Regions from separate parts of the Homo sapiens genome. Here region 2 is linked to region 1. Evidence: fine-mapped expression QTL. Tissue or cell type: thyroid. Region 1 holds a variant in brackets; the other region holds the start of a gene. All regions are shown on one strand. Distances are from middle to middle.

Region 1 (8,112 bases):
CCTTAGAGCTTTCCATCTTTCTTTTTCTGTTTGGTTCTCTGGGCTCTCACTTTCGTAAGAAGCCAAATAAAGACCTAGACAGAAAATGAAGTGAAATTTCACAATTATGGTTGATGATAATAACCTGTTCTACACCTGCTATATCTGCGTGGGTCTCTTTCTGGGTTCTCTATTCTGTCCCATTGATCCATGTGTCCATCCCTCCCCTAATACTGTGCTGTCTTAACGACAGTAGTTCTATAACATTTGCGTGAGGGCTTTTGCTTTTGTGTGAAACTCACTTCAAATGATGTATAAATACATGAGTCTTTATTTCTCTGGAATAACTAACTGCCCAAGAATGCAATGGCTGGGCCATATCATAGTGGCATATTTGGAATAAGAAACTCTTTATCTAGCCCTATATTCTGAGGGTTATCTCTTGCTTTTCCCTGCTAAAAGCTGTATAGGTTTACATTTTACATTTTAGTCTGTGATCCATGCTGAGCTAATTATTTGTATAAGGTGTGAGGCTTGGGCTGGGGTTCATGTTTTGGTCTGTGGATGTCCGGATGCTCCGGCACTGTTTGTTGGAGGGCTAGCTTTCCTCCATTGGGTTTTGTTTTGTTTTGTTTTGTTTTTGTCAAAAATCACCTGGTATATTTGCGTGGGTCTCTTTCTGGGTTCTCTATTCTGTCCCATTGATTCATGCGTCCATCCCTCCCCTAATACTGTGCTGTCTTAACGACCATAGCGCTATCATATCAGCCTTAACATCAAGCAGACTCATTCCTCCCACGAATCCTTTTCAAGATTGTTTTAGCAATTCTAGTTCCTTTGACTTCCGATACAAATTTTAGGAGAATCTCGTCTCTATCTTACAAAGAGTCTTGCTGGGATTTGGGTAGGAATTGCATTAAACCTGTACTTAAATTCTGGGAGGAGAATTAATACCTTTGCTATGCAGTCTTTGCGTTCGAGAACATCCTATGTCTCCATTTATCTACATCTTTCTTGATTTCTTTCATCAGCATTAACTTTTTTTTGAGACAGAAGTCTCGCTCTGTCGCCCAGGCTGGAGTGCAGTGGCGCGATCTCGGCTCACTGCAAGCTCTGCCTCCCGGGTTCACACCATTCTCCTGCCTCACCCTCCCGAGTGGCTGGGACTACAGGTACCCACCACCACGCCCGGCTAATGTTTTGTATTTTTAGTAGAGATGGGGTTTCACCGTGTTAGCCAGGATGGTCTCGATCTCCTGACCTTGTGATCCGCCCGCCTCGGCCTCCCAGAGTGCTGAGATTACAGGCGTGAGCCACCGCACCCGGCACATCAGCATTAACTTTTAGCGTACACGTCCTGTGCGTGTTCTGTTCCATTTCCACCTACATATTTCATGTGAGTGACTGTAAATGGTATTATCATTTTAGTTTCAGCGTGCACATGTTTATTGCTCATACGTAGAAACATGGTTGATTTTTGCATGTGTGTCTTGTATCCTGCAACCTTGCTGAACTCCCTTATTAGTTCTAGGGGTTTTTGTAGATTCTTTGGGATTTTTTTTCCTCATCATCTGCAAATAGGGACAGTGTTAATTTTTCTTTCTGATTTGTGTGTTACTTCCTGTTCTTGCCTTATCGCACTAACTAGTTCTTCCATTACTATGATGACTAAGAGTGGGGAAGAGTGAACATCCTTTCATTGTTATTGGTCTTACGAGGAAAGCATTAAATCTTCTGCTGTTAAATATAATGTTTGCAGAAGCGTTTCTGTGGATGCAACTTGTCATGCTGATAAATTCCCTTCTATTACTAGTTTCTGAGAGTTTTTACCATAAATGCGTGTAGAAATTTGTCAAATGCCTTTTCTGCATTGATTAATATAATCATGTGTCTTTTCTTCTTTAGCTGTTTAGTATAGTGAATCACACTGATTGAATTTCAAATATTGAACAGCTTTGCATCCTTGGAATGAACCCACTTAGTCATGACGTATAATTATTTTTACATATTGCTGAACTCTATTTGCTTATTTTGTTAAGGATTCTTGTGTCTATATTCATGAGGGATATTGGCCTGTATTTTCTTTTTTTGGTACTGTCTTTGGTTTTAGTATCAGGGTAATACTGGTGCCAGGGTTTGAATGTTTGTGCCCTGAAAAATTCATGTTGAAACATAATCCCGAATGCAACAGTGTTAACTAACAGGTGGGGTCTGGAGGAGGCGATTAGGCCATGAGGTTCCACCCTCATGGATGGGATTAGTGCCCTTATGAAAGGGCTGGAGGGAGCCAGTCTGGCCCCTTTTTGCCCATCTGCCAAATGAGGACACAGCATTTGCCCCTTCTGCCATGCGAGGACACAGCAAGAAGGCTCCACCTTAGAAGCAGAGAGCAGCCCTCACCAGACACAGAATCTGCCTTGATCTTGGATTTCTGGCCTCTGAAACTGTAGATATATATATATAAACTCAGTGGTAAGAAAATGTCTGTTGTTTATGAATTACCCAGTCTAAGGTATTTTGTTACGGCAGCTCAAACTGACTAAGACAACTGGCTTCATCAGGAGGCTCCCTCCTCTGCCACTTTCTGGAAGAGATTGTGGAGAATTGGTGTTAATTCTTTAAGCATTTGGTAGAAGTCTCCAGTGTAACCATTTGAGCCTGTAGACTTCATTTTTGGGAGTTTTAAAATTATAAATTCAATTTATTTAATAGTCACAGGGCTATTCAAATTATCTATTTTATGTCAAGTTGTGGTAATTTGTGCTTTTTAAGGAATTAGTTCATTTCATTTAAATTGTTAAATTCGTGTGTGTGGAGTTGTTTGTCGTATTCCCTTATTATCTTTTCAATGTCTGTAGTCGTTAGTGATATCCTGTTTTACTCCTGGTACAGTAGTCCCCTATTATCTGTGGGGGATACATTCTAAGTCCCCTGGTGGCTGCCTGAAACTGCAGATAGTACGGAATCCTGTATATACTTGTCTTGGATCCCTTTTCCATCTTAACTAAGCACTCATCAGGCACTTCTGCAGTTTGAGATGCAACAGCAAAACTAGCAAGAATTTATTTTTCTTTCTTCAGAATTTCATGGATAAGTTTGTTCTTACTGTAGATCTTAGTAATCTCAGCATACAATTTTTTCCCTTGAGAACTTTCACCTCATCATTTAACGGAAGCACTTTACAGCTTCCCTTTGCCATATCTGAACTGCCTGCATCACTGCTCAGGTACTTTGCCAGGCGCGGTGGCTCACGCCTGTCATCCCAGCACTTTGGGAGGCGGAGGTGGGCAGATCACGAGGTCAGGAGATGGAGACCATCCTGGCTAACACGGTGAAACCCCGTCTCTACTAAAAATACAAAAAATTAGCCAAGTGTGGTGGCGGGCGCCTGTAGTCCCAGCTACTCGGGAGGCTGAGGCAGGAGAATGGTGTGAACCCGGGAGGCGGAGGTTGCAGTGAGCCGCGACTGCGCCACTGCACTCCATCCTGGGTGACAGAGCAAGACTCTGTCTCAAAAAAAAAAAAAGAAGTAAAATAGGCTGGGCGCGGTGGCTCACACCTGTAATCCTAGCACTTTGGGAGGCTGAGGCTGGTGGATCACTTGAGGTCAGGAGTTCGAGACCAGCCTGACCAACATGGTGAAACCCCGTCTCTACTAAAAATACAAAAATTAGCTGGGCGTGGTGGCTCACGCCTGTAATCCCAGTGACTTGGGTGGCTGAGGGAGGAGAATCGCTTGAACCTGGGAGGCAGAGGCTGCAGTGAGCCGAGATCGTGCCACTGCACTCCAGCCTGGGTGACAGAGCGAGACTCTGTCTCAAAAAAAAAAAGAAGTAAAATGAGGGTTACCTGGACACAAGCACAGTGACACTGACAGTTGATCTGATAGCTGAGGTGGCCACTAAGTGACTGATAGGCAGCATAAACACAGCACAAATGCCGGGCAAAGGGATGAATCATGTCCCAGGAGGAACCCAGTGGGATGACGTGTGATTTCATCACACTACTCAGAATGGTGCACAATTCAAAACTTATGAATTATTTCTGGAATTTTCCATTTAGTATGTTCAGACCACGGTTGACTGAGGGTAACTACAGATAAGGGGGGACTACTGTATCAGTAATTTGTGTCTTTTCCTTTTCTTTGTCAAGAGGTTCTTTGCTAGATGGCAGCAATTTTATTGTTCTTTTCAAAGAACCAGCCCTTTGATTAACTTTATTGTTTTTCTGCTTACGGGTTCATTGATTTCTGCTCTTATTTCCATCCTGCTGCTGGCTTTGAGTTTATTTTGCTCCTCTTTTTCTAGATTCTTGATGTAGGAACTTAGATTATTGATTTGACACTTCCCCTTTTTTCTAATGTATGCATTTGGTGCTATAAGATTTCCTCTG[A/G]GTCCTGCTTTAGCTGTCCTACAAATTTGATTGTATTTTCAGTCAGTTCAATTATTTTTTAAATTTTCCATGAGCCTCTTTGACCCATGGATTATTTACAAGTGTGTCATTTAATTTCTAAATGTTTCAAGAGTTTTCTGTTGTCTGATGCTACCGATTATAATTTAATCCCACTGTGGTTGAAGAACATAGTGTGTTATGATTTCAGTTACTTTCAATTTGTTTCAGCTTGTTTTATGGCTCAGGAGATGGTATATTTTGGTCTATATTCTGGGGGCAATTTTAAAAAATGTGTGTTCTACTGCACTTGTATGGAGTGTTCTGTAAATGTTGATTAGATTCCTGTTGTTTGATGATATTGTTGAGTTCTTTGTCTTTGCTGATTTTCTGTCTAGTTGTTCTATCAATTGTTCAGAGAAGGGTGTTGACATCTTCAATTGTAATTGTAGATTAGTTATTTCTCCTTTCAGTTTGATCAGCTTTTGCTTAATGAATTTTGTAGCTCTGATGTTTGGTGGATACATAGTTAGGATTGCTATATCTTGGGGGACTGACCCTATTATTACTGTATAATGTCCTTCTTTGTTTCTGGTAATTTTCTTTCTCCTAAAGTGTGCTTTATCTGAAATTAATATTGCTACTCTTGCTTTCCTCTAATTAATATTAGCATGCTATATCTTTTCTTCTTTTTTTACTTATCAAAATGTCTCTATCATTATAGTGAAGTGAGTTTCTTGTAGATAGCCTATAGTTGGATCATTTTAAAAAATCGACTTTGTCAATTTCTTTTACTTGGTGTATTTAGACCATTTACATTTAATGTAATTATTAGTATGTTAGGACTTAAGTCTGCCTTTTTGTCTATTTTTTTGTTTTCTTTTTGTTCTGTGTTTTGTTCTCTGTTTTATTTTTCTTGTCTTCCTGTGGTTTACCTGAACAGCTTTTAGAATTCTATTTTGATTTATCTATAGTTAATTCCTGAAGGATGTTTTCACCGTATATAGGATTCTGGCTTGACAGTTCTTTTGGCAATTGAAAAATGTGCCACTGTCTTCTGGCCTCTTGGTTTCTGATGAGAAATTTGACATGATTCAGAGTGTTTTCCCCCTATGGGTAAAGTGTCATTTCTCTCTCAGTGTTTTTAATATTTAAAAAAAAATTTATTTTTTAATTATTTTTTTTCTTTGAGACAGAGTCTTGCTCTGTCACCCAGGCTGGAGTGCAGTGGCACAATCTTGGCTCACTGCAATCTTTGCCTTCCAGGTTAAAGCAATTCTTGTGCCTCAGCCACCCAAGTAGCTGGGATTATAGGCATGTGCCACCACAGCTGGCTAAATTTTGTATTTGTAGTAGAGACGAGGTTTCGCCATGTTGGTCAGGCTGGTTGGTCAGGCTGGTCTCGAATTCCTGGCCTCAACCAAACCACCTGCCTCAGCCTCCCAAAGTGCTGAGATTACAGGTATGAGCCACTGCACTTGGCTTCAAGATTTGTTTCTTTTCCTTCAGTTTTCAGAAGTTTGACTACAATGGGTCTTGGTAGGGGTTTCTTTAGTTTTTCCTTTTGGGGATCATTCAGCTTCTTGAATCTGTAGGTTTATGTTTTTTCCAACTCTGGGAACTTTCTAGCCATTATTTCTTTGAGTACTTTTTCAGTCCTGCCCTCTTTTTCCTCTCCTCCACAGACTGTGATGACATGAGTGTGGGATCTTTGGTTATAATCCCACAGGTCCCTGAAAATATGTTTCAGTCTATTTTCTTTCTTTCTTTTTTTTTTTTTTTGAGACAGAGTCTCACTCCATGGCCTAGGCTGGAGTGCAGTGGTGCGATCTCGGCTCACTGTAACCTCCACCTCTTTGGTTCAAGTGATTGTCTTCCCTCAGCCTCCCAAGTAGTTGGGACTACAGGTGCCCGACACCACGCTTGGCTAATTTTTTGTATTTTTAGTAGAGATGGGGTTTCACCGTGTTAGCCAGGATGGTCTCGATCTCCTGACCTCATGATCTGCCTGCCTCAGCCTCCCAAAGTGCTGGGATTACAAGCACGAGCCACCGCGCCCAGCCGTTTCAGTCTATTTTCTCCCTGTTGTTCAGATTGTATAATTTCTATTGTTCCATCTTCCAGTTCATAGATTTTTTTCCTCTGCCTTCTTTATTCTGCTGTTAAGCCCATTCACTCAGTTTTCCATCTCAGTTATTGTATTTTTCAGTTCTAAAACTCCCATTGGCTCTTCCTTATTATATCTTCTGTTTCTTTGCTGAGACTTTCTATATTTTCATTTGCTTCAAGGAGATTCAAGTCTGACTAATTGCCAGGTGGGCCCTGCCAGGGAAGCCTGGAGCTGAGGTCAGGGCCAGGTTTTTGTCAGAGGCTGTAAGTGACCCAGCTGGGGCTCAGTACATCCTAGGTCTCTTACCTTACTTCCCTCCACTTTTTTGGGGTTGTGGGAGGGACAGAAGGAAGAGACAGTAAAAATGGAAGATGCCCCTCTCTAACGGGGCTCCAGGAGGGCCACAGTTTTGTCTGTGTTAACTGCTAGATTGTTGCCTGGCACACAGCAGTCTCTGAAGACATATGGTTGACTAAAGGAGTAAATAAAATGCCCCCCTTTTCTCCCTCTCTGCCCTGAGACTCCTCTATGCCTCTCCTCATGTGTCTTTAACTCATCTTAATGCCCAAGTTCCATGAAGAGGTCACTGGCTAATGACAACAATCATCATAATAATTAGGGTAGTAGGGCCAGGCGTGGTGGCTCACGCCTGTAATCCCAGCACTTTGGGAGGCTGAGGCGGGTGGATCATGAGGTCAGGAGATTGAGACCATCCTGGCTAACATGGTGAAACCCCGTCTCTACTAAAAATACAAAAAAAATTAGCCGGGCGTGGTGGTGGGTGCCTGTAGTCCCAGCTACTCGGGAGGCTGAGGCAGGAGAATGTCGTGAACCCGGGAGGCGGAGCTTGCAGTGAGCCGAGATTGCGCCACTGCACTCCAGCCTGGGTGACAGAGCGAGACTCCGTCTCAAAAAAAAATAATAATAATAATTAGGTTGAATAATGGTCCCAGAGGTATCCAGGTTCTAATCCCAGGACCTTTGAATGTTACCTTCTATGGCAAAAAGGAACCTTACAGACATGATTAAATGAAGGATCTGGAGATGTGGAGAATATCTTGGATTATATGTGGGGGCCCTAAATGCAATCACAGGTGTCCTTATAAGAGGACGGCAAAGGGAGATTTGACTAAGGTGGAGAGAAGATGATGTGATGATGGAAGGAGAGATTGGAGTGATGCACTTGGAAGATGAAGGAAGGGGCCACAGCCAAGGAATACAGGTGGCCATTAGAAGTTGAAAAGGCCAGGAAATAGATTCTCCTCTCAGGGCCTCCAGAAGAAACCAGCCCTGCTGACAGCTTGATTTTAGCCCAGAGAAACTCATTTCGGCCCTCTGGTCTCCAGAAGTGTATAAGGAAACTCATTTCAGCCCTCTGCTCTCCAGAAGTGTATAAGGAAACTCATTTCAGCCCTCTGCTCTCCAGAAGTGTGTAAGGATAAATCTGTGTTGTTTTGAGCCACCAAGCTTGTGGTGATTTGTGACAGCACCAACAGGAAACTCACGCACTAGTGTGGATTGAGGGTAATTGTGTGGACTTCGCCTGGGCAGCTCCAGGCATTCTCCCCGGGGCCCTGGGGAGCAGGTTCTCACATCACCCCGCTTTCCAGATACTGCAGGAGAGGCTTAGAGAC
Region 2 (8,112 bases), 100 kb after region 1:
AGTGATCTGCCTGCCTCAGCCTTCCCAAGTGCTGGGATTACAGGCGTGAGCCACTGTGCCAGGCCCTCCTTGCCTTTAAATATATTTTTTCTCTCTCTCTCTCTTTCACCAGTATGTGAACAGATGGAACAGACAGACCTGTGAGACACACTAGAAAGCCCAGAAACAGGCCCAGGGCTTGGATTTTTAGTGTATGAGAAAGGTGCATTTCAGATCACTGGAGGAAAGATGACCTTTTAAATAAATGGCTTTGGGACAGAGTGCCAGACACTTAGAAAAAGATTAAATTGGATGCAGAGACTAAGTACACAACTAAACAAATATTAGAAAACACAGATGATTGCTTTATAATTGGGCTTTTCATAGTTAGAAAAGTCTAAGTATGATTCCAAATCTATGTGAAAAGATGTCCAATTTCATTTATAATAATAGAAATATAAATTTAAAATACACTGAAATACTGTTTCTCAGCTCTCAAACCAGCGAGGCTGTGGGGAAACAGAAGACACTGTGATACATCGGTGGTGGGAATGCAAAACGGTGCTACCTCTTGACAAGGAATTTGGGACTAGCTAACAAAATAAATCCACATTCACTCCTACTTCTAGAAGTGTGTTCTAAATATACACCTTTGCAAACATTAACAATATAGGTGCAAAGTTATCCATTACTCCATTATTTTAAATTTAAAAAGACTTGGAAAAAAACAAAATTGTTCATCCAGAGGACATAATTTGAATAAACAATAATAGTACAGCCACAGAACGAAATACTATGTGAGTGTAAAAAAGAATGAGCCAGGTCTCCATGAACTGGTAAGAAGTTACTTTCAGGACATACTTCTAACTGAAGAAAAACCAGGAGCTGTACGGCTAACTTTTGTGATAATGCTTAAATGACTTGTTTTGCAGAAAGAGACACAGGAAGGATAAACCAGAAAATATTTTAAATGGCTCCCAATGGTGTGGGAACAAGGAAGAAGATGCAGGGGTGGGACTGAGACCTTTAAGGATAGCTTTTTAATAGTTCTGACCTTTAAACCATGTGTTTTACGTATTCAAAAAATAAAATTACATCCTAAAGTCTAAAGGAAAAAAAGCTCCAAATTGAATGCAAGTAGAAACACACGAAGCTAACAGTGTGTCCGACTGATAACGTCACCACACAGCACTCTGCCTGCACACCCGTGGAAATCCCGATGCTGACCTAGCAGGTTTTGGTTGGCTTCGGTGTGGATGCAGTCATTCTGAAACTCTTTCGGGGTGCATTGTGGAGCTAAGTAAATGATGAAATATATTCATGTTTGGGGGAATAAGGTTCTCACTGCAGGAGAAAGGGAAAGGAAATATTAATTTTTAGTAAAAAAGGGGCCTTGGCTTGGTCCACTGACAAGGCCTAGAGGCGGCGAGTGCACGCCCCACACTAAGCCCGGGTCCCACGCAAGGAACCAAGGCCCCTTGGACAAATGGCTGACTCTGGATCTGGGTCCAGGTACAAGTGAGAGCTGGAACCACCTCAGAGACTGGCGGGGACATGGCAGGAGGGTGCAGACCCCGGCCTGAAAAGGGCCAGGTCCCGGGCAGGGCCCCACCTCTACCTGGTGGCCTGCGGGCTCCCCCTCGCCAGTCCCGCCCTGGGCTCCGCAGCCCGTCCCTCTCTCGCCTGCCCTCCCTCTCCTGCCCCGGCAGTGCGCCCACCCGCCGCCACGGGCAGCCTTTCGACGCCCAACCTGCAAACCGCCTGGGGGCTGCCCAGGACGTCCAGACCCTGTAGCGTCTCAGCTCCAGCTCCGCCCCCTCCTGCCCTCAGGGATCTCACCCGCGCTGTTCCCCCGGGCTACCCGTCCATCACAGGCTGGGCTCCCCGCTCAGGACAGCCTCCCTGACCAGACGAAGGCTCCGCCGCGCCCTGGTCTCCCTCTGCCCCAGTCACCCTACTGCATGTTCTTCCCAGCACGCATAAGATCTTGGCCATGTCCTTGCTTTTGCCTTTGATTTCTTGTTTGGTGTCCCCTCCCACACCAGCTAGTGAGCACTTACGGGGGCAGGCAGCAGGCGGCACACAGTAGGCGCTCAATGAATGTGGCCAGTGAGTGGACAACCCTAGCCCCCCTCCACCGGTCGCCTGCACAGTGGCTGCACTATGGCTGTTGGAGCCAGTCTTACCAGAGGTGGGACCCCAGCGTTGCCACTCCATGGTCCCGCCCCTCTCTAAACCTCAGTTACTCCACCTGCCTGGCAGGCAGAGCTTCCCAGGACTCTTCTCAGGCTCCCGGGGCTCAGAACTTCTGTCTCTCCCACAGCCCCAGGAGGCAGGAGATACGGGCCCGGAAGAGCTCCACCAGCACCCCAACTTCCCAGCTCTGTCTTTCCCACAGTTTCCCACGCCCACGCTGAGCATGGGGCGGCGTCGCCAGCACCCTTCCCCAAGTCCCCCCAAGCATCGCTTTCCCAATCTAAATACAATGAGTGGACCAGGTGGTCCCTTGATGCCGTCCGCTGTCACTGCGTGAGGGACACACCCAGGACTCCCAGCAGACCCCACTGTTCTCGCAGGCCCTCTGATAGTGGCGCTGGTCCTTTCCTCAAATCCGATCCCATCCTCAAGGGTGACAGCACCCTCTTCCCCCAGGCGCAAGGCCCTTTCCCTTCTGCACGTGCACCGGCAGGTCTGCTTTCCCGTCCCCATTTCATAGACGGGGAAACTGAGGTCCGGTGCGGGTGGAGGCTTTGGTCTAGGCTGGCTCTTCCTGCCACTCTAGCGGCTGAAAGAAGCTTGCTCCTCGCGCCCAGCAGGGGCTGGCGGCGCGCGGCAGAGCTGGGTCTCCCGCCAGGTGGCCGGGGGTGTGCCCTCAGGGTACCCTACCCGCTACCCCCGCGCCTCCAGTCCCGGCGGCCGCGCGGACCCCGCCCCTGCTGACCCCGGCGCACGCTCCCGCGCCGCGCGCAGCCTCCCGCCTCCCGCCGACCCCGCCGCGCCGCCGGCAGCCCTCCCCAGCCCCCGCGAGCCCGCGCCCTTGCCCGCACCGCCAGGTGTCCCTCGGCCGCGCACCACTCACCGGCTCCCGGCGCGCCGGAACTCCGGGCCCGGCCCATGGGCAGCTCCCGGTGCGAGCCTCGGCGCCGCGGACCGGGGCGCCGCCCGCCGCCGCCGCCGCCGCCGCCGCCGCCGCCGCCGCCGCCCGACCGCCCGGCTCCCAGCGCAGCCCGCACGAGCGCCTGGCGGCGGCCCCGGAGCAACGCGGCGCTGCGCCCCCTCGTGGCACTCAGGCAGCGCGGAGCGGGCGGGGCGCGGGGGTGGAGCTGCGGGAGCCCGCGGGCGGCGCTGCACACCAGGGCCCTCCGTGCCCCGGCCGCGGAGCCAAGCGTCCCGCCCTGCGTTCAGGCCTCCGCGGCGGCTGGCCCCCCGCGCCAGGACCACCCGCTCGGGCCGTCAGACGCTGCCCTCCCGCGCGCGGACCCTGGCGGACTCTGCGCCCCAGCTGCCCCAGCCTACACCTCACCTGGTGGGCCTCTGGCGCCCCAAAACCCAGTTCACCCTCTCTCCTCAAGACTGGGCCCGGCCCGGTTCTCTGGACTGGCCACCTAGGTTGTCTGTGTCCCCCAATGGGACATCCCTGGGTGGACACCCCCCCTCCCCAACCTTCTCGGCGCTCTCCCGTGGCCCCCAGGGAGGGTGGACACCACTTTGAAGACACCGGGGTTCTGGGAGGATGGCGATGCATGATTTCACTTTTAGAAAGGGAGAGGGGCTCTAACAGGATCCAGTGGCCTCCTTGAACTGGGTCTTCAGTGAAAAGTTCCCTGGTTGGTCCCAGCATAGAGGTCAGGACACCTGTCCTCCTGTGTCCGCAGTTTGTCCCTTCCGCTGGGTTCCTGGTCTGGCTGACTTCAAGAATGAGCCAGGGACCTTGGCAGTGAGTGTTACAGCTCTTAAAGGTGGTGCGACGGTGAAACCCTGTCTGTACTAAAAATACAAAAAAATTAGCCAGGTTTGGTGGTGGGCGCTTGTGGTCCCAGCTATTCGGGAGGCTGAGGCAGGAGAAGGGCGTGAACCCGGGGAGGTGGAGCTTGCAGTGAGCAGAGATTGCACCACTGCACTGTAGCCTGGGCGACAGAGCAAGACTCCATCTCAAAAAAAAAAAAAAAGAAAAGAAAAGAAAAAGGTGGTGCAGACCCAAAGAGTGCGTAGCAGCAAAATGTCTTGTGAAGAGCAAGAGAACAAAGCTTCCACAGCAGGGAAAAAGACCACAGCCGGTCGCCGCTGTTGCTGGCTGGCGAGGGGTGGGCGGGCAGCTTTTATTCCCTTATTTGTCCCCACCCATGTCCTGCTGATTGGTCCGTTTCACGGAGTGCTGATTGGTGCGTTTTTACAGAGTGCTGATTGGTGCATTTACAATCCTCTAGCTAGCCAGAAAAGTTCTCCAAGTCCCCACCCGACACGGAAGTTCCAGCTGCCTTCACCTCACTCTGCTTTAGTCAGGACCTGCCTGATGAGATGTGGCCCAAAACTCAACCCAACCAGCTTGAGCAAAAAGCTGGTTTGTGGATCATAAAAAGCCAAGGTTTACTGCTTAGAGGAATGGCTAGATCCAGGTACTTAACCTATGTGCATAGAAACTGGCCTCCCCTATCTCCCAGTCTTTCTGTGGCAGAATGGCCCTGGGTTGACACCTCAGAGAGGGCACAGCTGCCTGATAGTTGCAAGGACAGCCTGCGGCTGCCACACACAGGCTCCGAGGAGCTGAGCTCAGGCCATTTCCAAAGACCTAGGGAGCAGGAATAGCAGGCCTGGGTGTCGTCTCACTAGAGCTGAGGCAGAGTTAGTCCTGTGTCAGCTTTGAGGATGGAGTAAGGTGCTGTTCCAAGCTTCCGTGAAGGCTGTTCCTGGAAGAATGGACAGGTTAAGAACAACAGTCCAGCCCATTTCTTGAACAGTTAGGGAAACTGAGTCCTGGAGAGAGCAGGCAGCTGCCTAGGGCATACAGATGTATTAGAATGAATGTGGGCCAGGTAGCTAGGCAGGGAGACAGCAGGGCTGGGGCCAGGGCCAGGGCCAGAGGCTGGCCCTAGGGAGGGTGACATCTGAGACCAAGGGTCAGGTGTGGGGAAAGGGAGGAGGAACAGAGGCAGGCACTTGGTCAGGGGTGAGCAGTGTGCTCCCAGCAGATAGACAGATGCGCCTCAGGGTGCAGGCACTGGGCCCTCCCTGCATCTTCTCCGATTATCACCCTATGCCCCTAAGCCTCAGGTCCAGTCCCAGGGTGTCGCCTGGAGGAAGCCAGGAGTCTAGGAGGAGAGGCCGCAAGAGGCACCTCAGAAGAGCTGACCCACTCAGCTGTGTTGTTCTGGGGTCTGGGCAGCACTGAGCGGCCCTCCTAACCAAGTGCAGGTCAGGGTGGTGAGGCCAGTCTTTCCCCAGCTCACCCTTGCTCTGTGAGCAAAGGCTGCTGTCCCCTGATAAAGAACTTTCTCCAGCAAGTGGCTGGGGCCACTGAAGCATGATTGCCCTGCTGGGAGCAGGGTAGGGGATGCTTGGATGAGGCCAGGGCAACTGGAACATGGGTGTGGACTAGCTCATGGCCACAGCTCCGTGTCCCACAGGGGTGAGGGTGGCAGAGCTTTGCTCTGGGACAAAGGAGAAGACCGTGTCCCCTGAGGTCTCCTGCGTCCTCTCCCTGCCAGACCCATCGCTGCCGAGAGTTGGGCCTGTGCTGAGGAAGACGCATGAGCTGCAGTCGCGGCTCATGCAACACCAGGAAGGTTTTTGAGCCTCGCGGCCAGCGTGGAGTTCTGCCCTGAGCCTCCAGCTTTGTGGGACCCTGGCTGCAGGTGCCACCACTGGGCCCTGGGAGGTATCTGCTCCCGCCCCCTCATAGCCCACCCAGGAGTGCCCTCTAGCAAGGAACCTCTCCTGCCCAGCCCCTACCCTGCCCACCCAACTTCTCACTCCAGAACGTGCCCCGGGGCTAATCCCTGAGTGAGGGCATTGGGACAGAGGGTGAGCCATCCCTAGGGCCGTCAACTCAGTCTCCCCTCACCCCACCACTGCCCTGAGACATCTATTGGGTGGACACTTACCTAGGGCCTATGTGTGCCGGGCACCATGCTGGGTGCTGGGAATATAGCAGAGAGCCCGACATGGGGTTCCTGCCCCCTGGAACTCATGGTTTAGAGAAGGGAGGCTGAAAACTAACCATACAAACAAAAGAGTAAAAACAATCATTTCGGAGAGCGCCGAGCGCCATGAAGGAAGCCATACTGGGGAGGTGGTTGAGTGCGGTGGGGCTGCTTTAGAAGGGAGGGCCCAGGAAGGGCCTCTCCAGGCACATCAGACAAGGCACTGGCCATACAGGGTCTGGGAAAAGCACCGTGGGCAGAGAGAATAGCAAGGGCGAGGCCCTGTGGCTGGCATGGACTTTGCATTGTTTTTGCAAAAAAGAGGCTGGAGCCAAGGTGGAAGGGAACAGGGCCAGGCAGGGTGTCCAGGTGGGCAAGGAGCTGGATCCTGTCCTCTGGGTGTCGACACAGGGGCAGGTGTGGCTGCAGCTCTGCCAGCAGCACCCCCAGCAGGAGGGGGTGGTGCTGTCCCCAGATGTAGGGGTCCTGACACCCATGAGGCCTTTCCCAGCACCTTCAGCCCCTGCGTAGCTGCCCCTGGCCTGGATGGCACATCCTGCACACGTGTGACTCTGGGAGACCTGAGTGTGCCCCACCAACGCAGCACTGGGTTAGTGGGGCTGGAGTCCTTGTTCACTGGGTGTGGCCACGAGGGACAGGCAGCAGGCCCACGAGGAGTTGGCAGGCAGGGGAGAGCTGATGAGTACAGACCTGGGCAGGGGGCAGGGAATGGGGCAGACCTGAGGGCTGTTTCTGGGGGAGAAGCCACAGGACTGGATGATGGGAGATAGGAGAATGTGTGAGAAGTGACAGCGATGGCAGGGGTCCTGGCAGGATGAATGGGGTACCTTTCCCAGGAGGGCGAGGAGCCCCTTCACAGCAGACAGCACCTGCTGGGACTGTGGGGCCAGGGGCATGTGGAGGAGGTCTGGAGGCAGCGGGGCCTGCGGGTGCCTGCCTGGTGCGGGTCCTCAGGGAGGAAGGAAGGACAGCACGGGCTCCAGCAGCTGCAGGCGCTTACGCAGAGCAGGAGCCTGTGAGGCCCTGCAGTACGTCTGCCCGGGATGCTTGGCACAGCCACAGCACGTGACTCAGGGAAGGGGCACCGGGCAAGGCTGCTGAGCAAGTTCACCAATAAAATCAGGAAACACTGAGGACAGAACTTTGGGCTCTGGCCAAAGCATTTTATTAGCCGACCCGTAACTCGTCCATTCTTGGTCTGGTGAAAACCCTCCAAAGTTACTGCAAGGGCAGAGCTCCAGGAGAAGTCATCCTATAGTCAGCCACGGGAGGGGGCCACATTTAATGATCCTTTACAGTCCAGGGCTGCCAACCCACTGAGCCTGGGCTGGGAGGAGCAAGAGAGAGGGTGTGTGTGTGTATATGGATTTGCACATGTGTGCATGCATGGTATATGCAGTATGTGTATGTGCACTTGTGTGAATGTGTGGTGTGTTCTATGCATGTGTATGCAGCACATGTGTGTAATGTGTGTGTGTTGTATGCTTGTGTATGTAGCGCTGTTTTGTGCACGTGTGTGTATATATGTGATGCTGTGTGCATGAGTGTGTGGTATATGCATGTGTGTGTTGTCTGCTATGCACATGTGTGTGTGCTGTGTGCATGTTGGTGCTGCGTGCATGTATGTATGTTGTGTGCATGTGCGTGGTGTATGTATGTGTTGTGTGCATGTGTGCTCTGCCTATGTGTGTGGTGCCATGTGCATTCTTGTGCTCTATGCATGTGTGTGGTGCTGTGCATGTGTGTGCTGTGTGCATGTGGGTGTGCTGTATGTGTGGTACTGTGTGCCTATGTGCTGTGTGCATGTGTGTGGTGTATGCATGTGTGTGGTGTATGTTTTATGCTGTGTGCCTGTGTGCTGTGTGCATGTGTGTGGTGTATGTTTTATGCTGTGTGCATGCATGTGCTGTGTGCATGTGTGTGTTGTGTGCATGTGTGTGTAGCGTATGCATGTGGTGTGCTGTGCATGTGT

Which allele goes with the higher level. Alleles are on the strand shown, and positions count from the first base shown. SD is a standard deviation of normalised expression in the study named.
For the expression in thyroid of the gene that starts at base 3,242 in region 2, allele A in region 1 goes with a lower level than allele G (small effect, 0.29 SD a copy in GTEx).

Evidence for each region.
Region 2: RASGEF1C starts here. The variant in region 1 is fine-mapped to the expression of RASGEF1C in thyroid (GTEx, PIP above 0.99).

What each region holds. Positions count from the first base shown.
Region 1 is chr5:180,102,070-180,110,181 of GRCh38, forward strand. It overlaps RASGEF1C (RasGEF domain family member 1C), which reads right to left. Exons shown (of 14, transcript NM_175062.4): 13 at 2-74. Among named protein-coding and RNA genes, the nearest start is that of RNF130, 34 kb to the left of the region's middle. The variant A/G (reference allele first, on the strand shown) is at 4,372.
Region 2 is chr5:180,205,970-180,214,081 of GRCh38, forward strand. RASGEF1C (RasGEF domain family member 1C) reads right to left here and starts at 3,242. Exons shown (of 14, transcript NM_175062.4): 1 at 3,059-3,242. RefSeq lists an enhancer at 1,241-2,033 and a silencer at 3,158-3,377.